Linked DNA regions of Homo sapiens: all the other regions are linked to region 1. Evidence: fine-mapped expression QTL. A gene starts in region 1. Each other region holds a variant in brackets. All regions are shown on one strand. Distances are from middle to middle.

The links.
Region 2: its variant is fine-mapped to the expression of TRPC4 in ovary (GTEx, PIP above 0.99). The same link has a PIP of 0.9 or more in thyroid.
Region 3: its variant is fine-mapped to the expression of TRPC4 in testis (GTEx, PIP 0.93).

Annotation. Positions count from the first base shown.
Region 1 is chr13:37,865,170-37,875,675 of GRCh38, forward strand. It overlaps TRPC4 (transient receptor potential cation channel subfamily C member 4), which reads right to left and starts at 4,603. Exons shown (of 11, transcript NM_016179.4): 1 at 4,426-4,603. LOC124903160 (a long non-coding RNA gene) reads left to right here and starts at 3,974. Exons shown (of 2, transcript XR_007063762.1): 1 at 3,974-5,497; 2 at 7,036-8,730.
Region 2 is chr13:37,710,288-37,720,793 of GRCh38, forward strand. All of the region lies in intron 3 of TRPC4 (transient receptor potential cation channel subfamily C member 4), which reads right to left. Among named protein-coding and RNA genes, the nearest start is that of POSTN, 120 kb to the left of the region's middle. The variant C/G (reference allele first, on the strand shown) is at 6,281.
Region 3 is chr13:37,812,050-37,822,555 of GRCh38, forward strand. The region is part of intron 1 of TRPC4 (transient receptor potential cation channel subfamily C member 4); the gene reads right to left. Among named protein-coding and RNA genes, the nearest start is that of TRPC4, 52 kb to the right of the region's middle. The variant G/A (reference allele first, on the strand shown) is at 6,008.

The DNA.
Region 1 (10,506 bases):
GAGCTCCTCTCAAATACCAAGGGACATTAAAATAATTGGAAAATTAAAATTTCAGGGAAAACTAAAACAAATACACTTGTCTAGAAATTTTACATAACATTGATAAGATGTAGTATAAACCTAACATGGCCTAGCATGACCTTTTTTTTAATAAAGACATTTTATTACCAGCTTACAGATGGTCAAAAGGTTAGCATGATAACTTTTTATTTATAAATTATAAGCTCATGAGTATTTCTAAAAAATTATAATCTTGAACTTTGTTCATAAAAACAAACTTTTTTTTTCTTTTTACATGTATTAGATTTATATTTAAGAATAAGAAAGGAAGTCATTTTGAGATCATCCTGCTCAAGATAAGTAGCTTATCTCTTGCTCTGCTTCAAAACTGATGGAACTTTAACAGACTATTGTTTCAAATTCTATCCCCATGATGGGGACAGTTGTTTATATTCCAATGTTATAATATTTTTAAAATTCAAGAAACAAATAGCTGAAAAAATGAATTTATGAAACTTGTTAAAAGATTATTGATTGTATTTTAGAAACCACAGGAATTAAGTAAAAAGAGTGTAGTCTTTACCATCAGGTAGACGTAGTACCTGATAGTAAAATTTGATATACTTCAAATCCTGCCTTCCCACAAAGCAATTTTGTGATTTTCATAAATTTCATCTTTCTCAGGTTGTTAAAATGTGATAATACTTCAGTTTCAAGGTAGATGTTAAGATAACAATGAAAAATAGCTTTCTTTTTCAAAGTTTCTCACATAGTGCCAAGTGTACATTAAATTCTCATAAATATTGGCCCATTTTCCCTCTTTTCTTTTTTCACAATAGGTCCTGTTTCAGGTAAATTTGAACTCTTGATAGTATTTGCTTGAAGTAATTTTTCAACATATTTCAAAATCTAACAGCAAACCACAGACAGAATATAATTAATGAATATCTGATTCATTTAATTTCACTGTCATTTCTCAAAAAGAATGCAGTGTGCTAGATAAAGCTATCAAGGCATATTTTTAAATTAATGTTTTAATTAACATTTCTAATTTTATATGTAACACTGTGTCCATGTGTCACTTAGTGTCTCTCAAGAAGTCATTATTCTATGACACTGCTATATTTTTAAAAAGAGAGATAAAACATACACTAATATTAATAGGATATTACATACAGTTTAGTTACAATAGTAGATCAAGTTCTGAAACTATTTCTTTCTTATTCTATTAAAATTAAACAACTTTCAGGAGGGTCACTTATATTTTTTAAACATTTAAATACAGCACTTAATTTGCTAAATAGTTCATGAAACCACAAGGTTTTGAATTAATACATTTTCAATGCGCATGCCTTTAATTTTCAGTTTCCCAAACAAATGGTGTCTTTCCCTAAATGCATTTTTTGCATCATAAAGTTATTTTGGTAATACTAATGTTCTCAAAAATTAGGTCTATATTTGTGCTGATTAAAAAGACACAGCCATGATATTATATCCCTGATCAAAATATTCTCAAATCTCTTAAAATATTGCGGGGTCAATGCCTCTGGAAGGGTGAGAAATAGAAAACATGAGTAGTGAGATAGTTCTAAATCAACTCTTCATTATAACTAGATAGAAACAAATTCCCAATTAAATTTGGGTTGAGTCGAACCAGTTTTAATGTTTATTTTTTGTGGGGGGGGGCGGGTATAGGGTATAAATTAGGTGAAAAGGCAAAGTTTTTATTTTGAGCTGTCTCCTCAACCTCATTTTTAATGAGAACCAAATAATCATGGTGGGGTTTCCATAGGCATTAAAGAGGTCAATAACACTGGTTCCAATTGAGTCTAGGCAATTCAATTTCTAAAGTCAAAGTGCACATTAGAATTTGATTTCATAAGCTATATGGCAATGATGGTTTTGGAAAAAGGAAAATTTAATAGTTTATTGTATTTTCCCTTTACCTGACATTATTTTCAAAAATACAACAATCATATTTTCATAAAATATTCAGTCCCTAATTTTATAGTTCTAGCTACTGCTTAGTATTTCTCATATATCTATCTTTACTTATATATCTATACTAACTTTAAGCACTGATAGTTACAATACTTACTATTGAACAAATGTGTGCATATTTTTATTTTTGTTCCAATATATGCATCGATCAGAAAAGAGAAATTATTTCAGTTTTCAGCTGCTAAATATAATGCTGATCATCTGAATTGCTATAAATAATCCTGGCAATTAAACATGCAGGTATAAAAATAAAACAGACTATTTCCAAAAATATACACTTAAAAGTAGTTTTAATTCAGTGGGGTTAAAATCAGTGCATCTTAAAGGGGGTTATTATATTTCAATACAAATGTAATTGTCTTTATCACAGGGTATGCTGATAGCATTTGACTAGATGATCAGATGTTTATAACTTTGAAATCATAAAAGAAAAATTAAAAATAATGATTGTCATTGTTTCTATCTTTCATCTACAGTTCAGAAACAGCAATTTTTCTAAGCTTAGTTATTACAGTGAAGTTTATAACAACATCTAGTTCACAAAAATATTGATAGACACAGCCATCCAAATATTGAAAAATAGCCAATCTAACTTCCAGATTCCTTACCAATTAAAATGATGTAATAGTTTATAAACATAAGTTGTTGTTTTTTAATATTTATTTAGCTTTGGATTCCTAAATGAGGATGTTGAAACAGGTAACTTTTCAGTCCTATAGATGGCTGTAGTTCTCCATGGAGCATAAGTTAGAAAGTTAGTTTGAAATGTGTGTATAGAATAAGACATTAAAATTTCCTCTAATGAGAAAGAATATAAAGATTGCTTCTGTTATTTCCTATTAATACACAGTATGAATCGATTAAGGTTATTTTATATGAAAAGTTATTTGGTCTCTTACTGGTCTAATAATTAAAATAGCTATAAAATTCAAAGAGAACTTTAACTCTGTCATAGACTTTTTAATGCAGTTTTATCTTGACCTTTTGGAAATAAGTGCAACAGAAAAATAAATAATATAACCATTACAAAATTTTAAAGGTTATAAGTAATGAAAATCTATTCCAACTCATATATCTTTCAGAATGACCAGTGAGCAAGTAAATTGAAATTGATCTTATTGTTTTTTTTCCCCCCTTAAACATTTAAGGAGGATGTTTTCTGGACAATAGTGTCCAGGTGAATAAGAAAGTAGGCGCTACAAATGTAACTTTAAATAGCAAACCCAACACAATGATGAAGATTTCAACATTTTAACATCTCCACCCACTCTTACTCTCAATGTCTAATTTAGAGTTTTACCAAAAACACCCCAAACCAAAAAACCCTCCAGTAAACCTTTTGCTTAAAGAATTTGTAATATTCTTTGTGCTGTGATTATGTACTGTGAAAGGAAAGGCAGAAATTATATGAGCTCTGAGAGGCGGTGTTTTATTAAAACTGAAAAAGTTTTACAAGTCTGTCTATTTTTTTTTTTAATAAAACAACTAAAGCTTCCTTCTGTCTCTTCCTACTCCTTTGGCTTGGTGCTTACTCCTTAAGCAACTTGCTGCATTTTATAGCTATGGAATTTCACTGGGAAGGGCCTCTCTAAGAAGCCATGTGAACAGGGATACACCATAGTGGATACACCATAGTGAATGCAGGCAGACAAGATAAGAGATCCCTTTCCTCAGCTCTCCTAAACCCTCGATGCCTTTCCAGTATTCTCTTGTCTCTAGTCGCAAAAGACAGCTGACTTCACAGCTGGAACAACAAGTTGTGCAGTGAATCCCAGTGATTTAACCAAGTAGCAAACCGGGTCATTGGCTTCATTGGCTTCATTGGAATCTCGGTTGCCAGGCGAACTAGGAATCACTAGCCTGGGTCGGGCAACACGGATAAAAGTGTTTCTGTTTCTTGACAGAGAATGAAAACGACGCAGAATGTAATCGATCGGTAGAACATTGATCACTCTCCTTCCTTCGTTACCCTACTTTAAGTGCCGGAGAGCTAAGGCCTCACTTATATGCACCCAGATGCCCCCGAGATCTCCATTTTCCCCAAATGCATAAAAGGCTAAAAACGGCCACATTCCCCAGCACCACGGCGTGGCTGCAGCTCCTTTGTTTACCATATAAGTCACACCGGGGGTTCACTCCTCGCCCTCTCCCCTGCTTTAAAGCCGAGTGCGGCGGAAGACTGAGGAGCACCCCCAAACTCCTGCTCAGCCCGAGTCAAGCACCGAAAGCTTCACAGGTTTTTTTCCTGAGCCTTGAAGAGAAACCACATAGCCAGAACCTTTTGAACTCCTAACCCCGCAGGGATGTCCGCCTCCCAGAAGAGAGCCGGCTTCCCAGGCAGCTTAGGAAACTTAACCGAGATCCCAGAAAGAAGGCGAGGTGTAGCTCCGGTCGAACGGAGCCCCGAGGCGACATCCTCTTTACCTGCAAAGTTGCAATCTTCGGGCTGAAGTGATGGGATCCGAGGACTGACGGCGCGGGTGCCGTGCGGGGTGAGAGCACGCCCGGCAAATTCCAATGGAATTCCCTTAGTCGCTGCTGAGTTTTGGAGCATTCCAAGGAAAACGATCGAAGCTGGAGCCCACGCAGCTGGCACCGAACTGGGCGGAGTGAGGATGCTCTGAAAGCGAAGCCATGGGAGGCGGGGGAGGGGCGGCCCGGGAGGGGGAGGTAACCGCCAGGGGAGGAGAACCTCTCCCACCCCCGCCTGCACAGATCCCTCTGGATAAAGTTAAGAGTTCCCACGGCTGACAGCGGATGAGCCCAGAGAAAGGCACCCCGCCCTCCGTCCCTGGTGGCTGCCGGGCTCGGGGTCCGCACAGACCGCGCTGGAAAGGGATAGTCCGGGAAGATGCGCGTCCCACGCACCACACTGCTTGGAGGTGGAGGAGACCCGCGCGCTGGCAGGAGCTGACGCTGCGTCCCCAGCTTGTCCCCCTCGAATAGCCTCCACCTACCGGGGCCAACTGCTTGAGGTCAGCCAGTGGGCAGGGGAGCTCACCACCAGCCAGCCGTCATCCAGCCAAGTCGGTGGCGAGAATCCACCCTGTGGTTCTGGATGCAAGCCAGACACACCTCCAGGCTTAGGGCGGTCTCTGCAGGCGTGTTGGACTTCAGTGCGCTCCGACACCCAGCTTTTGAATGCCCTGCTCCCAGCCCGGTAAACAAGCACCCATGAGGCCCGCCGCCCGACCGGAAAAAAGTAGTCCCCTGCAACTCTCAAAGCTTCTCCCACTCCCGCTTCTCTGGGCGACTGGCACCCCCTCTCCTGTCCTCAAGGTGTCAGACTTCCCTTGCAAGAGCTGGAGGATGCGGCTTGCCACTAGTGTCAACAATCAAAACAGTCGCAATGAATAAATGATGAGCCACAGCGTTCCAACCACCCTCATCCAGCTTGGTCTTTCCAAAAGGCATAGGAAATCAGCAAGTTTCCACCAAATATACCAAAACCCTAAGACGCGAGCCAGCCCAAGGGTGCAAGGTTCTGCGGCTGCAGGTGATGTGCGTGTGTGCGAGTGTGTGTGTGTGCGATACTGGTACCATCTTACTGAGAGTGAGATTTCAAGATAAACGTTATCTCTTGTCCAATCTCTTTAGTGTTCACATATGAAAATAAGATTAAAGTACAGAGAGGAATACACACACACACAAACCACACACACACTATTGGCAAAGTTGGCAATAACACTTGCTGTAACTGCAACACGGTGATTCCCAGCTTGTCACTCGGAAAGTCTTAATTGGTTGTGACCCCATGACCCAGAGAAAGATAGAGTTCACGTGTAAGATAGAGAGTGGAGCCCTTGAGGAATCCTAGCTGGCAATTACCCTCCTCGAGACTCTGTTTCTACCTGATTGCCGTTATTTTCTGAAAGCCCTGAGGTTAGCTGCTGGTCTCTGATTGTATCCCAGCAGACGCCTGATTCAGCTTCCAGTCTGCGCAAAAGCTTAGGAGCAACCGTTTTCTCCTATCCCAACCAAGTTGTTACACCTGGGAAGCTGTGCTGTGCCGACTGCAAGGCGGACCAGTTTCTTCCCATGGAATATTCCCAAGGAATATAAACTGACAAACTGGCATCCATATTCAGACTCTAAAGCACAAAATTAAAGAATTTCCTTTTTTATCTTTCCTACCCACTTCAGAGTTCACATGAGTTGAGGTTTTTGTAAATAGTTTTCACATGAGTAAAGAGGATATTACCAGAGATCACGCTGGGGTAACTGTGCATGCTGCTTTTTTTTTTTAAGTCACTTTTCTTATTTGTTAATTTATCTTTCTCCCTGCCTAACTGCTCCTCTATGGGTTTGTTCCCAGCTCAGCTAGACCCCTATTCTAAATTTCTGAGATACTAAGTCCTTCCCAAAATACTAAGATACATTGAGATAAACCTGGTTTCTACAATGCTACTGCAGTAAACAAAGGAGAGAACGACAAAAGGCTTTTCTCCTTCCTTGAATCTCTTTTTACTCTTTACTACAAGAAGAATATATTGACATGTTTAAACAGTTCTTTACTTTTCTTAACATTAAATGAAGGCTTTTAAAAATATGCAAAATGTATCTATCAGTAGACAAGGTAATAACTTTATAATAAATTCAAGTCCACTTTCTAACAAGGGAGGGGAGACTGTAAACATATATATGGAAATCTATTTTATTTAATGGAACTGTAAGTATTTTTGTGACATTTATTGACAATGTTTCTTCTTAGCCTGAAAAACAAAATTCTACATACTGTGTTTGAGTTTATATCTTTGAGATCAACCCGTGGTAGATAGAATTCCACATACTGAAATGAGTATAGGTCTTTATAATGCATATTAAAATACATGCAAGAGAAAAGCTGATCAGTGACAAACTTGTCCATTGTTTAGAAGTGATGAACTTTACTTTGCAACCTTAGCATCTGTACCAAGTTAGATGCTCCTGCCCTCTAAGGATTTGTTCTTTGTAGCAAATGTTATCTCTGTCATGATGTCAGCAAAGAGATATTATACCAATTTTTTCTAATTTGTTATTTCTTTCCATAAAAAGGTGCCTATGAAACTGCAATAAATACATAACAGAAGAGAACACCAAGGAGAGCACTATATATGTCAACCATCTGAGCAGGCTGTATTCCCACGGAAAGAAGAATTTGTATTGATCACTGAGCCTCCTTTTCAACAGTTTCATGTGATTATTGATTGCTGGTCTCAGGTCTCCTACAAAATGATTAGCAATTACAGGAAAATTATTTGAAATCTGTTTAAACAATCTGGTGAATTGCATATACTACAGTCATTAGCAATCCAAAGAGTTTATTTTTAACAATTTAAACATATGAGTTTGGCAGCATTCTACGAACCTGCACTCCACATAAAATGCAATTCATTGAAGTCAAAGAAATTTACAATAAAATGTTATATGCTATCTAGAATTTATTTTAGTACCTTATTAAACAGAACAAGAAAGCACTCATGTTTCCAAATTAGCAAGAGACAAGTGACCCAAGAAATGATAGCAGTAAAACAATTCTCTGTAATGTCTATTTATAGCTAAAGTATATTGTAGAATTGGGATCACAATTGTTTTAGGAATACAATTTTCACTTTACTCCTAAAGGTTATTGTTCTGTTTAGGAGCTGACATGTAACATGTATGAAACACTGTTTCAAAGCTGTTATACCTCAGACATAGAGACAAAGTCACAGAGACAAGTATTTGGAGAATTTATTCATGCACATGTGTCACCATCAGCATTTTTATGTGCCAGTAATGCATCTGTGTATGATGCCATCATGAAGTATATGATATTGGCCTTTCTGATGCTAAGATAAATTAAGAAATAGGTTATCATTGTCTTTGATGCCCATGTGACCTGTCTTCCACCTTTGTGACCAGGCCTTTACCTCCTACTGCACAAGGGCTCACCCAAACTCACTGAAGGGGCTCCACCTCAGCTTAACTTTTGGATTTGGCTCCTGCTCCAGGTTTTAGAATCCTCTGTTCTGTCATCAATGTAATGAGGCTTCAATCTAACCTACATGGCCATGCTATACACACAGCTTTTACCTGCCTATTTTTTAAAAAAATTAACATTTTCTAAGTTATCAAAATGTTATTCAAAAATGTTAATTTTAATGAATCACTACTTATTTCTATGAAATACTTAAGTATTTTTCAGGTCTTGAAAGTGTAATTGTTTTTATACTATTATTCCCTACTGGTATACTTTTGTTGAAAGCCGTTACACAAGCATTTTTGTCTGTATCTCTAATTATGTCCTCAGAATAGATTCCTAGTAATACAGCCCTGTGTCATGATGCAGAAATATTTTAAAGTACATGCTGTATGTTATAAGGGAGCTTGTTGCATTGAACCCTCATCAATACGGGGCATCCTTAAGGTCCTTTTTCTTCTTTTCTTTTTTTATTTTGACTGATTTCCTACTTGAAAGAAAATGGTATCTCAATGAGTTGTGTTAACTAGAAACGGTGACTTTTATATTTTGTGTACTTTGCTACTTGTTTCTTTTTGTGAGTTTACATACTTTTTCAATACTTACGGGGTTTTGTTGCTATTCCCCCATTTGGTTTATAATAACTCTTAATATTTGAACATTAGTACATTCCCATATTTATGGAAGATATTTCTCAGTTTTTAATTCTTTGTTAAATTTGGAGGTAATGTTATTTATTTTAAAGATGTTTCATTCTTACAAACATTAAACTATCAAATTTTCCCTGATAATTTATTTTAGTGCTTTAATGCTCCTAATATCTTTTTCCTCTCATATTCACTTATTTTTTCAAGCTTTTAAAAAATGATTTCATGTTTAAGGCAATTGCTTAGTCATTAACTTCATAGACCCTGGAATCATGTTATCTAAATTTAAAATCCCAGTCTCAACATTCATTCAACGAATATTTACAGAGTCTATGTTTAAATATTTTATGGAGTGCAAAGCATTGTACTAGGTGCTTCCCATACATCTGTGAGCAAAACAGATAAGATACTGCCGTTGCTGAACTGATATTTTGAAGAGGACAGACAAAAATAATAAATATATTAAATAAGTTAATTACATACTATATTAGAAGGCAATTAAAAGAACAGGGTATGGGGGCTGGGCACGGTGGCTCAAGCCTGTAATCCAGCACTTTGGGAGGCCTAGGTGGGTGGATCACGAGGTCAGGAATCGAGAACATCCTGGCTAACACCGTGAAACCCTGTCTCTACTAAAAATACAGAAAAATTAGCCGGGCGTGGTGGCGGGCGCCTGTAATCCCAGCTACTCTGGAGGCTGAGGCAGGAGAATGGCATGAACCCGGGAGGTGAAGCTTGCACTGAGCCGAGATTGCGCCGCTGTACTCCAGCCTGGGCGACATAGCGAGACTTTGTCCCAAAAAAAAAAAAAAAAAAAAAAAAAAGAACAGGATATGGGGACTAAAAATGCTGATGGTGACAGATATTGGTGGTGGGTTGCAATTTTAACCAGTTGTCAGGGGAGTCTTCTTTAATCTGGAGACATTTAAGTAACAATCTGTAGGTTAGAGAACTGGCTGTAGGGATTCCCTGGTGAACAGTGTTCCAGGTTGAGGAGTAGGCTGAGCTGATTTATGTTGTAAAGTATTTTTCTTGCCGCTATAGTGAGGATAGACTTGGGGAAGCAAAGGTGGAAGCAGGGAGAACAGTTAAGAACCTACTGAAACAAACCAGGAAATACGGTGTTGACCAATTTGTGCAAAGTAGAGGTGGATTGAAGATCTAGTCTGAAGATAGATTGAACCGAATTTTCCAAAATGTTTGTATGCAGGCTATAAGAAGAGTTAAGCATAGCTATGAGATTTTTGGCTTGAGCACGCAGATGATTCTGAGTAAAGGATATTGTAAGATGGAGAAGATAGGAGTTAGGACTGGTTTTAGGGAGAAGATTAGGAATTCACGTGCGGACATATTAAGTCTGAGATGGCTATAAGAACACTTAAAAGCTGTGTGACCTTGGATAATATCACTGAACTTCCACATGACTTGGTTTTCTCATCTGTAAAAGAGTGAAGTAATTGTTCCTACCTCATAGGCTTGTTATGAGGACCAAAGCATTTTTGTAGGTAAAGCATTTACAAAAGTGATTAAAACAAAATACGCAATGTGTAAGTTTTGCCTCATTATTATTATTAGATATAATTCCAACATATTTGGAACTAACTTAAGCATGCATTATTTAGTGATGATCTAACTGTTTCTCTTTTACAAAATAGGAAACCAGTACGGTTTATTACAACTGGAAAATAATGAATTAATTCTTCATTTTCATACTGATTGATGATATCATGTCTTTATTATAAACCACATTCTTCTGCCAATGCCTCTTTGCAAGCTATCTATTCTTTACCTCTGATACCTTCCTTTATTTTTATGAATTGGCCCCAAATTGCATTTGTTTCCTTCTCTGTCCTTTTAGGTGTTGGCCAGTTACTAATCACTACAGCTGGAAGGCTGGGGTTGGGCAGCACCTTTGTC
Region 2 (10,506 bases), 150 kb before region 1:
TGAAGTATAAACAAAATAAATGTTGGCTGTGGCTCTGTTTTAATACACAGAGTTTGAAGGATAAAGTAAATAGAGGAATGCACAAAACTTTGTTTATTTATTTATTTTTGGTTGCTACTCCTTCCTTTTAAAAAGAGTTGTTTATTTAAATTTTTCAGATTTTAAGAGGGTGTTATTACCTACACCACACAGAAAAAGTACTTCATGAGATTATCTCATTCCTATTTTTCAGCTATGGTTGAATGCATTTTGTAAGTTTGGTATGGAAATTATTGGTTTTCACATCAAAGAGAAAGACACAGCTTAGGAATATTAATATAAAGTAACACATGACTGTTTCCTGGCAAAATACATTACTAAATACATACTTTCTACTTCCAAACACATTATTTGTCCCTTATTCTGTTCAAAAAAATGTTAGCTGATGATCTTCTTTATGGGTCTTGAATCTGTCTTGTCTCTAAGGTATAAAATCTGTATGACTAGAGATATCTGGCCATGGATTTTATCAGTTACAGATTTTCAATTAGGAAAGGGAAAAAAGTGAATGAAAGCAATTATTTTTTGAATGGAAAGATAGACTATTGCTTTTATATGAAGGTAATTGAGAAATAAGCTTCTGGGGCCTATATGATGCTGTATAATTTGTAATTAGTTATTCTCTCTTATACCAGGCAAAGGCTGATTTTGTACTTTAAAATGAAACTTCATTAAAAAATCTTCTTCACAAAGTAACCACAAAACAAAGTCTACTGTTGTGAATATATTAATTCTTAAGTCAATGATCTAAAAGGTCACGCAGAATGTGTTTAGATAAAATAGTACTACATACCTTTTGCTTAAAATATTTGTGTTTTTATACTAGAGGTCTATTATTGCTGCCCATTTTGAAGCTTCCTTTTGTTTGCATTGTACAAATTCACAAATAACTTTTTGGAACAGAGTTTAAAGATAATATATTCCATGAATTATTTTAACATCATATTAAATAGATGATCATAGAAATGGTTATTTCAAACAGAACTTCTCTGCAACATTTTCTAAGGGTTTATGGTATAAGCAATGATAGTACTTTGAAAATTGTTAAGTATGATACAAATATTGTGACAATTAGATCTTAACTGTATTCAATGTGAAGTAATTTATTAATTAATAATGGAATAAACAAATCCATGATTCCAGTTTAAAGATTCCTGAATTCTGTTACATTTAAAGTTTTATTCCCTGTGCTCCCAGAATAAATGAATCACCAAAATGTGAATAAATTTGAAGTTCACTTTAATTATTTTCACTACCATTCAAGATATAAGTCTCTGTAAGATATAGCAAAGATATCTAAGAAAAAAATACAGTAATCTGTAAAGAGATTTAAAGTGAATATCTTTCTATATTTCTTTACATAATTTTTTATTTTAATACTTGGCTTGTTTGCCTTGACCAGTAAACTATAGACATTTAATGTATAAGTCTGGTACAGTGCTGTCCCCCAAAATAAAACGTGAGCCATATTTGCAATTTAAAATGTTCTAATAGACATATTTCAGAAAAGAAAGTAGAAATAGGTAAAATTAATTTTAATAATTAATTTTAATAATGGCATTTAACATATCTAAAATTATTTCATAGTAGGATATAAGCAATATAAACATTTATTAATGAGATATTTTGCATTCTTTTCCTTTCTTTTTTGTACCAAGCCTTTGAAATCTCGTGTGCATTTTACGCTTTCAGCATATTTCCATTTTGACAAACTATATTTTGAGTGCTTAAATGCCTCATGTGGCTAGTGGCTACGATATTGGAAAAGGCAGTCCAAGTGTTGTTAAAGTCATAGATGATGGATATCTTTAGAAATTTCAAAAGAACCCTCAACAGGTCTATTCCAGAAGATAGGGATTGTGGTTATGTCCTTGATTGCCTTTCTCTCCAAAGATTGACAAGTGGGCAGTCAACTGATGATCCCCACACTGCTTTTCACTATTACCCAATGCTACATAGTACAGGGGATTTGCATTCCTCTCTCCCACTTATAGAGCCCCTTTTATAGTGCTAAAAGAAGATTCAATAACGGAGATCTCCAAGACTTTAGAAATGGGATGTCCAGTCACCGATTTCTGTTCCTAGGATGGACTTTGGAAGCAGATAGCCCTGCCTAGGCAATGATACCTAGTCCCATGCATTTTTTCATTGTCACGCTATCAGTGAGCGATCACTGGTGTTAATAGTTCCTATCTTGAAAAGTAGATAGGACTGAAGTAGTTCAGCTTATCAGTCAGTAACGTTTCTGTATAGCATATTTTTGAATAGGAAATCAGATTACTTTGCCCCTTGCTAATATTATCCTCAAGAGCATGGGAGAATTGGTCAGTTTTTATGTGGGAGCATTTCACTAATGGATTGGCTTGAGAGAGGTTCTGCCAAAGGAGCTTTGTAAAACTTAATGACCTGGAAAAAGCATGTCTAGAGAAGGGTGAGAGGCTGAAATAGATGTCAGGGGGGCCAAAGATACAACCTGCATATTAGCAAATATCTCATGTGCCTGAGATCTTAACACTGCAAATGAGTTGCTTATTGTGCATTTGTATTTGTTCCTCAAAAGAGAAAGAAATGCATGAGGTTTACTTCCAACATTGAAGATGCACATGACTGAAAAAAGTTGAACAGACAAAACACATGCATGCTCACACAAGCACCCTCTATGTCAGGCTAACTAAGATTTGTTGTTCTTAGAAAGTTAGAGGTATAAGGCACTTCAAAAATCATCAAGCATTTCATTTTTCAACCTTTTGTTTTTTCAACCAGGAATCTGACGACCATGGAAGCCAGGTGAATTTCCAGGGACACAAAACTAGCAGCAGAAGCAGAGTTAGCTCCTTATAGATGTGGTATTGATTGGGCCTTCCTGGGTGAGGGAGAAGAGTTTTGGGATTAAGTCAACCCCAAAATGATTTAAAGATTATATAACTACAATTCCAAGTCAGTAGTTACAGAATTTGCAAAGGAACTGTATTACTTACATGACCACGTACCATTTTACATTCTTTTATCTAGATAATAAAAGGCATTAAACAAGTAATCCTGGTTTAATCAACCTCTAAAGATTGCCTGAAATAAAAGCTAAACTTTCAGTTATAAAGTACTGGCTCTTTATTTAACAACTTTTCTTTTCTTTCTTTTAATCTTATGGAGTCCCTGGGATTGTTGTAGACAGTTTCTCATTATCTGAATAACCAACATAGTCCCTTCAAAGAAAGATAGCTGTTTCCACTGTCTGTCTTCCATGTCTTACTTGGTGTTTTATAAAGGGACTAAAAGAACGTTTCAGTCTTAAAAAACTGAGGAAGAAGAGTAATTTTACATAGGATCAGGTATAGTGATCTGAACATACATAATGGAAAAGAAAAGGAGAAGGTGGACTCCCACCTCCCTCAAAAAACCCATGGATGTTTTGTTTTGCAGTTTAGTTTTTATTCTAGAGGGTCAAGTAGAGGAATCACTTACTGATCCTAAGGATTAATAAATCAATGTTCTCTGCTATAAGAGAGGTGAGTCCAGGAAGAAGAGGTCATACACATAGTGACCAAGAAGTGGCTATATTTTTAGGAGGAATCTGTGCATTCTTTGTTTCTATTTCAACTTTTATATAGGAATTGCCTAGGTTTATCCCTATGCATTCCCTTCCTTTACTCCACGACTTTTCCTGAATCCTCCATTTCTCTCTCTGCTTTTATTACTGCACCCAAGCTTGCTTCCTTCCTTCCTTCCCTCCTTCCTTCCTTCCCTCCCTCCCTTTCTCCCTTTCTTTTCTTTTCTTTTTTTTCTCTTTCGCTCTCTCTCTTTCCTTTCTTTTCTCTCTCTTTTTTTTGTCTTACTCTGTCGCCCAGGCTGGAGTGCAGTGGTGTGATCTTGGCTCACTGCAACCTCTGCCTCCTGGGTTCAAACGATTCTCCTGCCTCAGCCTCCTGAGCGGCTGGGACTACAGTCATGTGCCACCATGCCCGGCTAATTTTTGTATTTTCAGTAGAGACAGGGTTTCACCACGTTCACAAGACTGGTCTCGAACTCCTGACCTCAGGTGATCCATCCACCTTGGCCTCCCAAAGCGCTGGGATTACAGGCGTAAGCCACTGTGCTGGGCCTATTTCTTATCTGACATATTTCAGTTACTTGCCCCACTCTATTCTAAACACAACATCTAAACTGATCTTTTCAAAATCACACATTTAATCATGACACATAGCTGCATAAAATCTTTTAAAAGCTGCTTTTAGCATTTAGGATAAAAACTAAAATTCTTAAAGAGGACACGCCCAATCTCACCTCTGCCTACTACTCTTTAGGGTTAGCTCACCCACTAGCCTTGCTCTCTGTGCTCCAGCCACACTGATTTCTGCCATCAAAGTATCACCCCACATGATGCTCCCTTTGTCTACTATTTGTAATCCCTCACCGCTCCTTTACTTCTTTTTTCCTCCTATTCAGTCAGTTCAGATTCCCTCTGGCATTGTTACATTGCTCCATATATCCTTCTTCATAATGCTTTTCAAAGACTGCACTAGTACTTTAATTTGAGCCATTATTTTTTATAATCTCTCCCACTAGACTGCTAGTTACACAAGGGCAAGAACTCTACTTATTCACCTCAGCATTACCAAAGCCTAACAATTCCTAATACGTATAGGTACACAAACAATATTTGTTTAATGAAGAATAAAGGCATGTATGCATATGTGTGTGCATAAATAAATTGATGAAAGCAATGAGATACTTATTGCACCTCTCCTAGAATAGTTCAGAGTGATCCCAATAATTTGCAGGAGTTTCATGGTCTAAAGAGAGCTGAAAGCACTTGTCTAGGACCACCTTCCAGACTTGTCCACCTTTCTTATTCCTTGTATCTTAGGCTGGATATGGCTGGAAGGTATAGTATGAGCCACGTGATATTGCCAAAGCCAAGAGCACAATGCCATTTGCAGGCCAGATATGCATATCTCTATGTCAACATATAGACCTGTAGGAAATCAAGGAAATCAACAAAGTAATGCATCTTTGCATAGGTTGAATGGTAGTAAATGAATAAGAGAATTTTCTATTTTACAGAAAAAGCATGTATTATATGAAGTGTCCAGACTCCAGAGCCAGAAAGATCTGTCTTTAAAATGCAGATTATAAAAATAGTTGCCTTTTGGGGAAGAATCAAATGAGATAAAGGATGTGAAGAGCTTATTACAGTACCAGGTGCAAAAATATTATTAGTTCTTTCCTTCTTCCTGCCGTCCCATCCCAATGCACATATTTGCATTGAGGACATTACACAGCTTAAAACAATTTGAAATATTGCTGTATCTACTTGCAACTACAGTGAGATAAGTGGGTTCACAAACTTTAATCATATGTTGCTTTTTCTGGACACCGCATCCGACCTCATAAGGAATTATTACTCACTAGATCATAACATCATAGGCTGTTTTGTCAGATAAGACACTTGCGAAATCTACCAGTTGAAATGTGATCTTGGTCATTATCCAGAATTGGCCTATATTAAAAATTGTCTATCTCTCTCCTCTTGTAACTGTATATGGAGGTTTGAATTGCTTGCTAGGAATTATCCCTGCCAACCTATGACAGATACAGCGAAGTGACTCAGAGGAACCGTGGGAATGTGCCTCAGTGCCCCACTCCATTTTAGGAGCCAAGGCGTACACATAGGCATTTTGCATGTCCTTTTTAAGAGCCTCAAGACCTGATAAAACTTTGTTAGAATGTAATATGTTGTTTTTGAGTGTTTGTATTTTTACAGACTAAGAGAAACATGAAAACTTTTTTTTCTCCTTGCTGCAAATCAAAAGCCAAGAGAAAATATTGTTTAAAACATATCTTAATTTGTTATGTGTTGTTGGTGTGACTTCCTGCATAGTTTCTTAGATGGAATAATGCTTTGGCAATCACCTTACCCTTCAAGGTACAAAAAAATTCTAAGTACTAAAATATACGGGAATTACAAGTAAGGAGACGAATAAATTCATTAAAGATGAGGTACCTTCTGTTAGAGGAGAATTTTGAATCCTAAAATTATAAGTACATTAATTTTAAAACTACTCACTTGAATTTGCACTTCTATTTCATACCAACTGTTCATTAGCAAAGGTTTCTTTACCATACATTTGCCAATACGGGGTAGCTCATGAAGAGAGCACTGGCTTTGAGTATCTAGTCAAGTTTTGTATAAGAAAACTTCTAGGCTGAGTTATTCTTTTTCAAAATAAAGTTGAACTCTGAA[C/G]CTACATAGTATCTTGAGGAAGTGGTTAGTACTTTGTGTATGTGGTGGGAGGGGAGGTCATTCTGAGGACATAAAAGACATTACTGCTAAAATATGAATGTTGATTCTTAAATATTTTTAACATAAAATTTCAGATAAACAGATCTTAAAAAAAACCACGCACTCTCTCTACTCAAGGGCTATTTTTAATCGTTACAAGTCTCAACGAGCATGGTATTTTTAAACTAGGAAGCTGGAAAAAAACATTTTTATTTTTAAATTGTCCTTTGTGAGTTTATTTTCCTCATAGCTGCTTCTCTTGTGTACGTCTGAGTTCTTAAAGTGTTTTTTTATCATGTTTGATATAGGAGACTAAGAGAGAAGTCTGGTGGGGACGGTGGTAAAATATCATAGACTGAATACATGTTTATATAACCAAACGCACACTCTTTGATCTGGCGACCTAGAGTAAGTGTGTAATAACACAAGTAGGTGGAAAACAAAAACATCAGAAGTGAGGCTGCCCAGAAGATAGTAACTTATTTCCATGACAATACTTCATATTCACAACATTTTACAGGGAGTTATAAGGGAGAAAATCAGTTTCAAGAACAATTTTCAAAAATTTAATGATATAATTCTCAGTGAATTATATTGATTTAGAGATTTATACTGAAGCTTTTCACAGAGTGAACAGCTAATAGATGACGATATCAGAAAATAGTTTTAGAATAGAGGACTATTTCTACATTAGAAACATACAGATTTTAAGTCTACATTTTAAATGCTATTGGCTACTTAATAGTAGGAAGAGGAATGGACATAGGTTGTATTTTACACACCAACATGAGTTTATTAGCAACGTGGGTCTAGAATGTATACTGAAAGGGAGTAGCCTGTCTGAATCTCTGTCAGCTGTGGTGTGGCTGAAACATTTCTTTATGAGCTGTTATGGTCTCAATTGTGTCCTCTACCCAAGATTAGTATGTTGAAGTCCTAACCCCAGAACCTTAGAGTGTGACAGTATTTAGAGATAAAGTCTTTAAAGAGGTAATTAAGTTAAAATGAAATATAGAGGGAAGACCAGGTGTAAATGCAGAAAGAAGAGAGTTATATTCAAGCCAAGGAGAGAGGTCTCAGGAAAATCCAACCCTCTCTATGTGTTGCTCTCAGTCTTCTAGCCTCTAGAGTTGTGAGAAAATAAATTTCTGTTGCTTAAGCTACCCAGTAAGGGGTACCTTCTTATGGAAGCCCTAGGGAACTAACATATAGACCAACCCCCCCGAAAAGAACAGCTATAACTTTGAAGAAAACACAATGAAAAACTAACCTTTAATTATAAAAATGAATAAAAACAGGCAGATTCTGGAAGACAGTAAAAACTTGGAAGAAAGGACCAGGCCAATGAGTTTCTTATTTACTTATTTGTTTGCTTGTATATAGCTAGTAGCCTGAGGGCAGGCTACCACTGTGGTACATTGTGGAGTGGCAAGAACTCTGAAAATATGAATAATAATGGCCTACAAAAATATATGACAGTATTCAGGGCAACCACAACTGCTAGAAAATGAAGAGAGAATTCCATAAAAGAGGGAGTCAGAAAAAAGATTCCCAAATTCTCTGCAGAATCCTGAGCCATGCATACGTAGGGCAGACTGCAGACAGTCTAGGTAAAGGGGATTTAGAGAAGTACTGAACTGAGATTTTAAGTATACTGACTTTAAACTACAAAACGCACACACGCACATACACACAAACAGACAAAACTTGAAATGATTATAACAGAATCTAGAGTCTCCACAACAACTTACAGCATCCAAGATACAATGCAAAATTTCTCCTTCTAGAAAGAAGCAGGAAAATGTGATCCATTCTCAAGAGAAAAGACAATCAATGAAGACTGACCCTGAGATGACCCAGATAATGGATTTAGCAGACATAGACTTTAGTTATTATAACTAAGCTCAAGATGGCAAATGAAAAAATATGGTAATAATAAATGAAAACATAAGAAATCTCAGCAGAGAAATAGAAATTATAAAACAGCAAAGTGGAAAGTTCAGAACTGAAAATAAAATACCTAAAATATAAAAATATTACTGAATGAGCTTAACAGCAGAATAGATATGACAGAGGAAAGAGTAAGACAAGCCAAACACAAATCAAGAGAAATTATCCAATCTAAGGAAAAAAGAGAAGGAAATATTAAAATAAGCTAATAGAACCTTAAGTATCCATGGGATAATATCAAAAGGTGTATTTGAAGTCTCAGAAGAATAACAGAAAGAGAATGAGTCAGGAAAAGAATATTTGAGGAGATAATGGCATAAAGTTTCCTCCAAATTGTTGAAATACATAAATTTACGGAATCAAGAAGCTCAGGAAAACCTCAAACAGAATAACAATGAAGAAAACTATGCCACAACACATTATAGTCAAACTTCTAAAACAACAAAAAAGAAAAAAAAATCTTAAAAGCAGTCTGAGAAAAATGGCATATTATATGCAGGAGAACACCAATTAAAATTATTGCTGACATTTCATCAGAAATATAGAGCCCAGAAGGGAATGGGGCAGTATCTTTAAAATGCTGACTACGAAAGACAAAAAACTGTCAATCCAGAATTTTATACTGAATGAAAACATTCTTCAAGAATGGAGATAAGTGGTACATGCCTATAGTCTCAGCTACGTTGGAGGCTGAGGTGGGAGAATCACCTGAGTCTGGGAGGTTGAGGCTGCAGTGAGCCGGGATCATGCCACTGCACTCCAGCCTGGGTGACAGAGTGAGACCATGTCTTATAAAAAGAAAAAAATGAAGGTAAAACAAAGACATTATGAGATAAAAGAACACTAAAAATATTTGTTGCCAACAGACATGTACTACAAGACATGCTAAAGAGGATTCTTCTGGTTTAAAGGAAATGATACTGGAAAAAAAACTCAAATCAGTAAGGAATGAAGAACATTAGAAAAGGCAAATAGGTATATAAAAGATCATTTTTTCTATTATTTGAAAAATAAGCATACCAATGTGTAAAGCAAAAATTAAGACACTGTCTTGTGATGTTTATAATGTATGGAATGTATATGTCAACTACAGCATAAAGAACAGCAATGTGGGGTAAATGGGCCTTTTCTGTGGCAAAGCTTCTACATATTGCATGAGGTATACAATATAAACTCCAAGTAGATTGTGAAAAATTGAGGGTATTGTGGCAGACAGAATAATGCCCTCCCTCCAAAGATGTCCATGTGGATATGCTATGTTACATGGCAAGCAGGAATGAAGGTTGCAGATGGAATTAAGGTTGCTAATCAGCTAACATTAAAATATGTTTTAATGTTAAAACATTATTCTGTTTTAGAAATGTTAAAACATTTCTAACAGAAAAATTATTCTGGATTATCTAAGTGGGCTCGGTGTAGTCAGAAGTGTTCTTAAAAGATGGAAGAAGGAGGCAGCAGGAGGCTAAGGTGATGCTGCTGAGAAGGACTCAACCTGCTACTATTGCTGGCTTTAAAGATGGAGGAAGAGGAAAAGATGGGAAGATCAAGGAAAATGATTATCCTCTGAGCTTCCAGAAGGAATGCAACCACGCCAAGATCTCAATTTTAGCTCAGTGAGACTTGCATCGTATTTTTGACATATTGCCCTATAAAATAATAAAGTTGTGTTGCTTTGAGCCACTATGCAAAAATCTGTTACAGCAGCAAGAGAAAACTAATTAATGTATACATTGAAATTCTGAAAGCAACCACTAAAATATAAGGTGAAAAGGTATAGCTATCTAGGGCAGATCCTAGAACGAAAGAGAATGCCAGATACTTGCCATTCCTAGTAATGGGACGCCTAAGTCTGTCCGTTGTTTTGGACATGAGAAACCGAGCAATGAGGTTATTATTAGTAGTAGTAGTATTATTTTGCTTTTTCCTAGAATCATTTTTTCTGCGTTCTGAACTTTTCTGTGTTTCTGGTGTTCTGAATTATCTAGTGAGGATGGATTTAAATAGTCATTTTATTTTATACTAAAATAATCAGTATTTAAGTGTTTTACAAATAAATATTTATTTCTCAATACCTCAGATAATGACAGATACACCTAAATATTGGCAAAACTAATCTTTTGCACTTGTACTGTTATACAAGTTTTACTCAGGAGTATATTTATTTTTCATTTTTCATTTGAACACCTATTTCCTATTTTGTTAACAGGAGTTTCACTTGGGTACATTCTGAATATACT
Region 3 (10,506 bases), 53 kb before region 1:
GGACCTGTAGTCCCAACTACTTGGGAGGCTGAGGCAGGAGCATTGCTTGAACCCAGGAGGCAGAGGTTGCAGTGAGCTGACACAGCACCACTGTACTCCAGCCTAGGCAACAGACTGAGACTCTATCAAAAAAAAAAAAAAAAAAACCAGGAGATCTAATTGCTTCAAGTAAATTAACTGAGCGATAGAACATAACTCAAGATTATTTATAAAAATGCAAACATTTCTAGCACTCAACAAAGTAAAATTTATAGTATCTATCATCTAATCAAAGACTATCAAGCATATAAGTATGAAAAAAAATACAAACCATTATGAGGAGAAAATTTAATGAATCTAAACTCACCTAGAACTCACAAAGATATTAAAATTAGCAAGAAAAGCTACATTATGACAGTTCTTAAAAGTTTATTAATGATAACTACAGTATGTGAGAAGTAAAATATATTGGATCATTGGATATGCTCAATGGCAGATTAGATATTGCCAAAAAGATTACTGAGCCTAAAGACATAGCAATAGAAAGTATCCAAATGGAACACATGAAGAGAAAAAATTAAAAGAGCATTATTAAGCTGTGGAACACAGTCAGTCACCCTAATATATATTTAATTAGTGCCTCTTGAGAGAGAGAAGGTTAAAAATATTTGAAAAATAATGAAAAAGATGTTTTCCAAATTTGATAATAATTGTTAACTAACAAATACAAGAAGTTTAATAAATCCCAAGCACGAGAAACATAAAGAAAACTACAGCAAGTCATGTGATAATCAAATTTCTTAAAATCATAGACAAAGAAACAAATCTTAAATCAGCCAACAATTGCTCCTTCCCTTGGAAAACAAAAAATGACATGCCACGTAAAGAGAAACAAAGATAAGCAACGACAACTAACTTCTCATTGGAAAAACACTAGTGAAAAAAGCAGTGGAACAGCAACTCTAAAATATTGAAAAAAAAGTCAATCTAGAATTTTATACCCACCCAAAATATCTTTCCAAACAAAGGCTAACCAACCACAAAGGCATAAAATTATAAATCAATAACAAGAAGAAATCTGGGAAAGTCACAAATAGTTAGAAATTAAATGATATTCTCTAAAATAATCAATAAATCAAAGAAGAAATCATAAGAGAAATTAGTTAATTTTATGAGATAAATACAAGTGAAAATATAGCATACCAAAATTCATGGGATGTAAAAGCAGTGCTTACAAGGAAATTTATATTTGTGAATGCCTGTTTGATATATATCTTAAATTAATATCATAAACTTCTATCTTAAGAAATTATAAATGTAAAAATATTAAATCAAAGCAAGCAGAAGAAATAATATATATTACAGTGGATATAAGTAAAATAGAGAACAGAGAAACAATAGGAAGAATCAACAAAACCAATTATTTTAAGCAATCCATATAACTGATGAAACTTTAGCTAAACAGACCAAGGGGAAAAAAAAGAGAAGATGCAAATTATGAAAATTAAGACTTAAACAGGGAACACTACTACTGATGTTACAGAATTAAAAAACATTAAAAGTGTACAACTGTATGCCAACAAATTAGATGAACTAGATGAGTAGACAAATTTTTAGGAATAAACAAGCTACCAAACAGACTGAAGAAGAAATAGAAATTCTTCATAGACTTGTAACAAAGAGATCAAATTAGTAAATTATTTTTTAAAATAACTTCACCAAGAAAAGTCTTCATAGATAAATTCTACCAAATGTTTCAATCATTCACAAACTCTAGCAAAAAACAGAAGGAACACTTTACAACTCATTCTATGAAGGCAGAATTATCCTGACACCAAATACAAAGACATTACAAGAAAAATCTACAAGCCAGTATATCTATGAATAGAAATAAAAAAAGTCCTAAGGATAATAAAAAGACACCAAATCCAGCAGTATTAAAAAATGACTGTATATTATGACCTAGTGGAGTTACTCTAGATTGCAAATTTAGTTCAACAGATGAAAAACCAATATAATACAACAAATCAATACAATAAAAAAACCCACATCATCACAACAATAGACACAGAAACAACATTTCTCAAAGAAATTCAACATCATTTCACTATAGAAATCCTCAAAATCTAGGAATCAAATGGGATTTCCTCAATCTTGTAAAGGACATCTAGGAAAACACACAGCTAAAATCATACTTACTGGAAAATACTGAGCATTTCATCCCTGAGATGGTGAACAAGACAAAGATGCCCACTCTCACCATTTCTTGTCAACAATATACTAGAGGTTTTGACCAGGGCAATTAGGTAAGGGAAAAAAAAGGTATCAAAGTAGAAAAGAAATGAATATAACTATATCTATTTCAAGATGACATGATCTTCAAAAATAAGTAATCCATAAAAATTCTATTAAAGACTAATGAATGGATTCAGTAAATTTATAGGATATAACATGAACATAAAATTAATTATATGTTTATAAAATAAGGAATAATTCCAAAACAAAACTATAGAAACAGTTCCATGTAAAACAACATCAAAAAGATTAAAATATTTAGGTATATGTTTAAGTGAAAGACTTGTAGTCTTGCATTCTTTCACTTGTAGTGAATGACTTGTACACAAAAACTGCAGAATGTCATTGAAGGAAATTATAGGAGATCAAATAAATGGAATGGCATTTTGTATTCATGTATTGGAAATCTTAATGTAAAAATGACACTAATCATCAAATTGATCTATAAATTTAATGCCATCCTTATCAAAATTCCAACTTACTTTTTAAAAGAAATTGACAAGCTGATTCTCAAATGTATAGTTAATCCAAGGGAACCAGACAAGCCAAAACAATCTGATAAAACAGAAAAAAATTTGGAGGACTTGCATTATCTGATTTCTAAACTTACTAAGAAACTACAGTAATCAAGAATGTGTAGTGCTGGAATATTAGACATAAAGGTCAATAAAATTGATTTGAGGGTCAGAAAATAAACCCTTATGCTTATGATCAGTTGATTTTTTTTACAAAGGTGTCAAGAAAAATTTAATGGAAAAAAGATCTTTCAATAAACAGTGCTGAGATGACTATATATCAACATGAAAAAGAATGAAGTTGGACCCAAACTTCATACAATATGGAAAATTCAATTCAAAAAGGATCAAAGATCTAAATGTTAAGAGCTCAAACTATACATAATAACTAGCTAATGACACACTGATACAATCAAACCTGCACATATCAATATTAACCTTGAAACTAAATAGGCTAAATGTCTCACTCAAAAGGCAAAGAGGGGTAAGTTAGATAAAGAAGAAAGACCCAGCTGTATGCTGTCTACAAGATACCCATCTCACATGCAATGACACCCATAGGTTCTAAGTAAAGAGATGGAGAAAAATCTACCAAACAAACAGAAAACTGAAAAAAGCAAGGATTGATAGTTCAATTTCAGACAAAACAGACTTTAAACGACAGTGATCAAAAAAGACAAAGAAGGGCATTACATGATAGTAAAGGATGTATTCAATAAGAAGACCTAACTATTCTAAATATATATGCACCTAACAAGAGGCACTCAGATTCATAAAACGAGTTCTTAGAAACCTACAAAGAGACTTAGATAACCACGCAATAAAAGTGGAAGACTTCAAGACCCCACTGGCAGTATTAGACAGGTCATTGAGGCACAAAACTAACAAAGATATTCAGAACCTGAACTTGACAGTTGATCAAACAGGCCTGACAAACATCTACAGAACTTTCTACCCTAAAACAAAAGAATATACATTCTTCTCATATGCATGTGATACATACTCTAAAACTGACAATCCAATTGTACCTGAAACAATCTCAGTAAATTAAAAAAAAATCAAATCATACCAAACACACTCTCAGAACACAGCACAATAAAAATATAAAACAATAGTAATAAAATCATACAATTACATACAAGTTAAACAACCTACTCAAGAATGACTTTTGGATAAACAGTAAAATTAAGGCAGAAATCAAGAAATTCTTTGAAATTAATGAGAACAAAATACAACATATCAGAATTTCTGGGACACAGATAAAACACTGTTAAGAGAGACATTTACAGCACTAAAAGCACACATCAAAACGTTAGAAATATGTCGAATTCATGGAAGGGCATTATATAATAGTAAAGGATTCAAGTCAACAAAAAGAGCTAACTATCCTAAATAGTCACACAACACAGGAGCACCCAGACTCATAAAGCAAGTTCTTGGAGACCTTCAAAGAGACTTAGATACACACACTGACAATATTAGACAGATCACTGAGGCAGAAAATTAACAAAGATATTCAGGACCCAAACTCAGCACTGATTCAAGTGGACCTGATAGATATCTACAGAACTCTCCAGCCAAAACAACAGGATATACATTCTTCTCATCGTGACATGGCACATATGCTGCCATTTCTGCTGAAACTATTCCAAATATTTGAGGAGAAAAGACTCCTCCCTAACTCATTCAATGAGGCCAGCATCATCCTGATACCAAAATCTGGCAGAAATACAGCAACAACAATTTCAGGCCAATATCCTTGAAGAACATTGATGCAAAAATCCTCAAGAAAATAGTCACAAACAGAATAAAGTAGCACATAAAAAAAGCTAATCCACCATGATCAAGTAGGCTTTATCCCTAGGATGCAAGATTGGTACATATGCAAATCAATAAATATGATCCATCACATAAACAGAACTAAAGACAAAAACCACATAATTATCTCAATAGACACAGAAAAGGCTTTCAATACAATTAAACACTCATTCATATTAAATATGCTCAATAAACTAGATATTGAAGGAAAATACCTCGAAATTAAAGAGCCATCTCTGACAAACCCATAACCCACATATTACTAAATGGCACAAGCTGGAAACATGCCCCTTGAAAACCAGCACAAGACAAGGATGCCTTCTCTCACCACTCTTATTCAACACAGTATTGGAAATCCTGGACAGAGCAATCAGGCAAGAGAAAGAAATAAAAGGCATCCAAATAGGAAGAGAGGAAGTCAAACTATCCCTGTTTGCAGACAACATAAGCCTTTAACTAGAAAACTCCATAGTCTCAGCACAAAAGCTTCTTAAGCTGATACACAACTTCCGCAAAGTCTCAGGATACAAAATCAATGGGCAAAATTTGCTAACATTCCCATAAACAAACAACAGTCAAGCTGAGAGCAAAATCAGGAATGTAATCCCATTCACAATTGCCACAAAAAGAATAAAATATCTAGGAATATAGCTAACCATGGAGGTGAAAGACCTCTACAAGGAGAGCTACAAAGCACAAAGCTCAAAGGAATCACAGATGACACAAACAAATGGAAAAACATTCCATGTTCATGGATAGGAAGAATCAATATCCTAAAAATGGTGATATTGCCCAAAGCAAGTTATAGATTCAATGCTATTCCTATTATACTACCATTGAGATTCTTCAGGGTAGTAGAGAGAACTATTTTAAAATTTACATGGGACCAAAAAAGAGCATGAATAACCAAGGCAATACTAAGGAAAACAAACAAACAAACAAACAAAGCAGGAGGCATCATGCTACCTAACTTCAAACTATATTACAGGGTTACGGTAATCAAAACAGCATAGTACTGCTACAAAAGCAGACACATAGAACAATGGAACAGAATAAAGAACCAAAAAAAAAGGCTGCACACCTACAACTATTCAATCTTTGACAAATCAGACAAAAACATGCAATTGGGAACAATGTCCTATTTGATAAATGGCACTAGGATAATAGGCTAGCCATATGCAGAAGATTGACATTGGACCCCTTCCTTACACCATATAGAAAAATCAACTCATGATGAATTAAAGGCTTAAATGTAATAATCAAAACTGTAAAAACCCTGGAAGACAACCTAGGTAATACTATTTAGGACACAGGAACGTACAAAGATTTTATGATGAAGATGTCAAAAGCAACTGCAACAAAAGCAAAAATGGACAAATGGGACCTAATTAAACTAAAGC[G/A]CTTTTGCATAGCAAAGAAAATGATTAATAGCGTGAACAGACAGCCTACAGAATGGGAGAATACTAGACAAAGTCTAGTATCCAGCATCTGTAAGAAACTTAAATAAATTTCAAGAAAAAAAATAAAAACCCCAAAAGTGCACAAAGGATGTAAACAGGCACTTTAAAAAAATGCAAATCAAAATTACAATGAGATACCATCTCACACCAGTTAGAATGGCAATCATTAAAAAGTCAGGAAATGACAGATGCTGGAGAGGATGTGGAGAAATAGGAATGCTTTTACACTGTTGGTGGGAGTGTAAATTAGTTCAACCATTGGGGAAGACAGTGTGATGATTCCTCAAAGATCTAGAACCAGAAATACCATTTGACCCCGCAATCCCATTACTGGGTATACACCCAAAGGATTATAAATCATACTACTATAAAGATACATGCACATGTATGTTTATTGCAGCACTATTCACAATAGCAAATACTTGGAACCAACCCAAATGCTCATCAATGATAGACTGGATAAAGAAAATATGGCACATATACACCATGGAATACTATGCAGCCATAAAAAGGGGTGAGTTCATGTTCTTTGCAGGGACATGGATGAAGCTGGAAACCATCATTCTCAGTAAACTAATGCAGGAACAGAAAACCAAACATTGTTTGTTCTCACTCATAAGTGGGAGTTGAACAATGAGAACACATGGACACAGGGAGGGGAACATCACATACCAGGGCCTGTCAGGGGATTGGGGGCCATTGAAGAGATAGCATTAGGAGAAATACCTAATGTAGATGATGGGTTGATAGGTGCAGCAAACCACCATGGCACGCGTATACCTATGTAACAAACCTGCACGTTCTGCATATATATCCCAAAACTTAAAGTACAATTAAAAAAAATACATGTGGCCAACAAGCATATGAAAAAAAATTTTTAAAAACCATTAATAATAGGAAAAGGTTATGAACAGACACTTTTCAAAAAAGACATAATTGTGGCCAGGAGGCATATGAAAAAAAGCTTAATATCACTGATCATTAGAGACATGCAAATGAAAACTACAATGAGATACCATCTTACACCATCAGAATGGCTATTATTAAAAAGCAAAAAAATTACAGATGCTGGTGAGGTTGTAGAGAAAAAGAAATGCTTATATACTGTTGGTTGGAGTGCAAATTAGTTCATGCATTGTGGAAAGCAGTGTGGCTATTTCTCAAAGATCTAAAGACAGAAACACCATTTGACCCAACAATCCCATTACTGGGTATATACTCAAAGGAATACATATTATTCTAATAAAAGACACATGAATGTGTATGTTTATTGTAGCACTATGTATAATAGGAAAGACATGGCATCAACATAAATGCCCATCAATGATAGACCAAATAAAGAAAATGTGATACACCATGGAATACTATGTAGCCATGAAAAGAACAAGATCATGTCCCTTGCAGGGACATGGATGGGGCTGGAGGCCATTATCTTTAGCAAACTAACGCAGGAACAGGAAATCAAATTTTGCATGTTCTCATTTATAAGTGGGAGCCAAATGATAAGAACACATGGGCACATAGAGGGGAACAACACATACTAAGACCTATCAAATTGGGGAAGATTGGAAGAGGGAGAGGATCAGGAAAACAATGAATGGGTACTAGGCTTAATACTTGGGTGACAAAATAATCTGTACAACGAACCCTCATTACACAAATTTACCTATATAGTAAACCTGCACATGTACCTCTGAACTTAAAATGAAAGTTAAAAAAAAAAACAAAAAAAGATGTCAAATTAACAACCTAACATCACACCTAGAGGAACTAAAAAAACAAGGGCCAGCCAACCCCAAATCTAGTAGAAGGCAATAAACAACCAAAATCAGAGATGAACCAAAGGAAATTGAGATGTAAAAAACCACACAAAAGATCAACAAATCCAGGAGTTTGTTTTTTAAAGAAAAAATAAGATTGATAGACTACTAGCTAGACAAAGATATAAAAGAGAGAAGATCCAAATAAACTCAATCAGAAATGACAAAGGATATATTACCACCAACCTCACAGAAATACAAAAAATTCCTTAGAGTCTATTTTAAACAGCTTTATGCATACAAACTAGAAACCCTAGAAGAAATGGATACATTCCTGGAAACACGCAACCTCCCAAGATTGAACCAGGAGGATATGGAATTCCTGAACAGACCAATAACAAGTTTGGAAATTGAATCAGTAATAAAAATCCTACCAACCAGAACATGTCTAGGATATGATGAATTCACAGTGAAATTCTACCAGAGATATAAAGAAATAGTACCATTCCTACTAAAACTATTCCCAATAATTGAAGAGGAGACTCCCCCTTACTCATTCTATGACGCCAGAATCCTCCTGACACCCAAACCTTACGGAGACACAACCAAAAAATAAAACTTCAGTTCAATATCCTTGTCAAATATAGATGCAAAAATTGTCAACAAATACTAGCCAACTGAATCCAGCAGCACATAAAAACGTAAATCCAAAATGATCAAGTAGGCTTTATCCCTGCAATGCAAGATTGGTTCAACATGCTCAAATCAACAAATGTGTTTCACCACATAAATGGAACTAAAAATAAAAATCACATGATTATCTCCATAGATGAAGAAAAGGCTTTCAAAGAAATTCAACATCTTTCATAGTCAGAACCCTCAACAAACTAGGCATTGAAGGAACATACTTCAAAATAATAACAGCCATCTAAAAAGACTCACAGCAAACATTATACTGAATGGGCAAAAGCTAGAAGCATTCCCCTTAAAAACTGCAACAAAACAAGGATGTCCTCTCTCACCACTCCTACTGAAGATAGTACTGGAAGACCTAGCCCAAGCAATCAGGCAACAGAAAGAAATAAAATGAATCCAAATAGGAAAAGATAAAGTCAAACTATTTCTGTTTGCAGATTACATGATTCTATATGTAGAAAGCCCCATAGTCTCTGCACAAAAGCTCCTTGATCTGATAAACAACTTCAGCAAAGTTTTGGGATATTAAATTATTGTACAAAAACCAATAGCATTCCTATACACAAGCAACATCCAAACTGAAAGCCAAATCATGAATGAAATCACATTCACAATAGCCACACACACACACACACACACACACACACACACACACACACAAATACCTAGGAATACAGCTGACCAGGGAGGTGAAAGATCTCTACAATAAGAATTACAAAACACTGCTCAAAGAAATCAGAGATGACACAAATGAATGGAAAAATAGTCCAAGTTCATGAATAGGAATAATCAATATTGTTAAAATAGGATACTGCCCAAAGCAATTTATAGATTCAATGCTATTCCTATCAAATTACCAATGACATTCTTCAAAGAATTAGAAAAACTATTTTAAAATTCATATAGAACCAAAGAAGAGTCCAAATAGCCAAGGAAATCCTAAGCAAAAAGAACAAAACTGAAGGCATCACATTGCTTGACTTCAAACTATACTACAAGGCTACAGTAACTGAAACAGCATTGAACTGGTAGAAAAAGAGACACATAGAGCAATGGAACAAAATAGAAAGCCTAGAAATAAAGCCACATGCCTACATTCATCTGGTCATTGATAAAGTTAACAACAGCAAGCAATGGGGAAAGGTCTCTCTATTCAATAAATGATGCTGGGATAACTGGCTAGTCATACGTGGAAGATTGAAACTGGGTCTTTCCTTACACAATATACAAAAATCAGCTCAAGATAGATTAAAGACTTAAATGTAAAACCCAAAACTGTAAAAATCCTGGAAGATAACCTAGGAAATACCATTCCAGACACAGGCCCTGGCAAAGATTTCGTGATGAAGATGCCAAAAGCAATTACAATAAAAACAAAATTGACAAATGAAACCTAATTAAACCAAAGAACTTCACACAGGAAAAGAAACTATTAACAGATTAAACAGACAACCTACAGAATGGGGAAAATATTTGAAAAAAATGCATTTGACAAAGGTCTAATATCCAGAATATATAAGTAACTTAAATTTATAAGAAATAAACAAACAACCCCATTAAAAAGTGGACATGAACAGACACTTTTCCAAAGAAGACATACACAAAGCCAATAGGCATGTGAAAGAAGGCTCAACATCACAGATTATTAGAGAAATGCAAATCAAAACCACAATGAGATACCATCTCAAATTAATCAGAATGGTTTTTTTTTTATTATTATACTTTAAGTTTTAGGGTACATGTGCACAATGTGCAGGTTAGTTACATATGTATACATGTGCCATGCTGGTGCGCTGCACCCACTAACTCGTCATCTAGCATTAGGTATATCTCCTAATGCTATCCCTCCCCCCCCACCCCACAACAGTCCCCACAGTGTGATGTTCCCCCTCCTGTGTCCATGTGATCTCATTGTTTGATTCCCATCTATGAGTGAGAATATGCGGTGTTTGGTTTTTTGTTCTTGTGATAGTTTACTAAGAA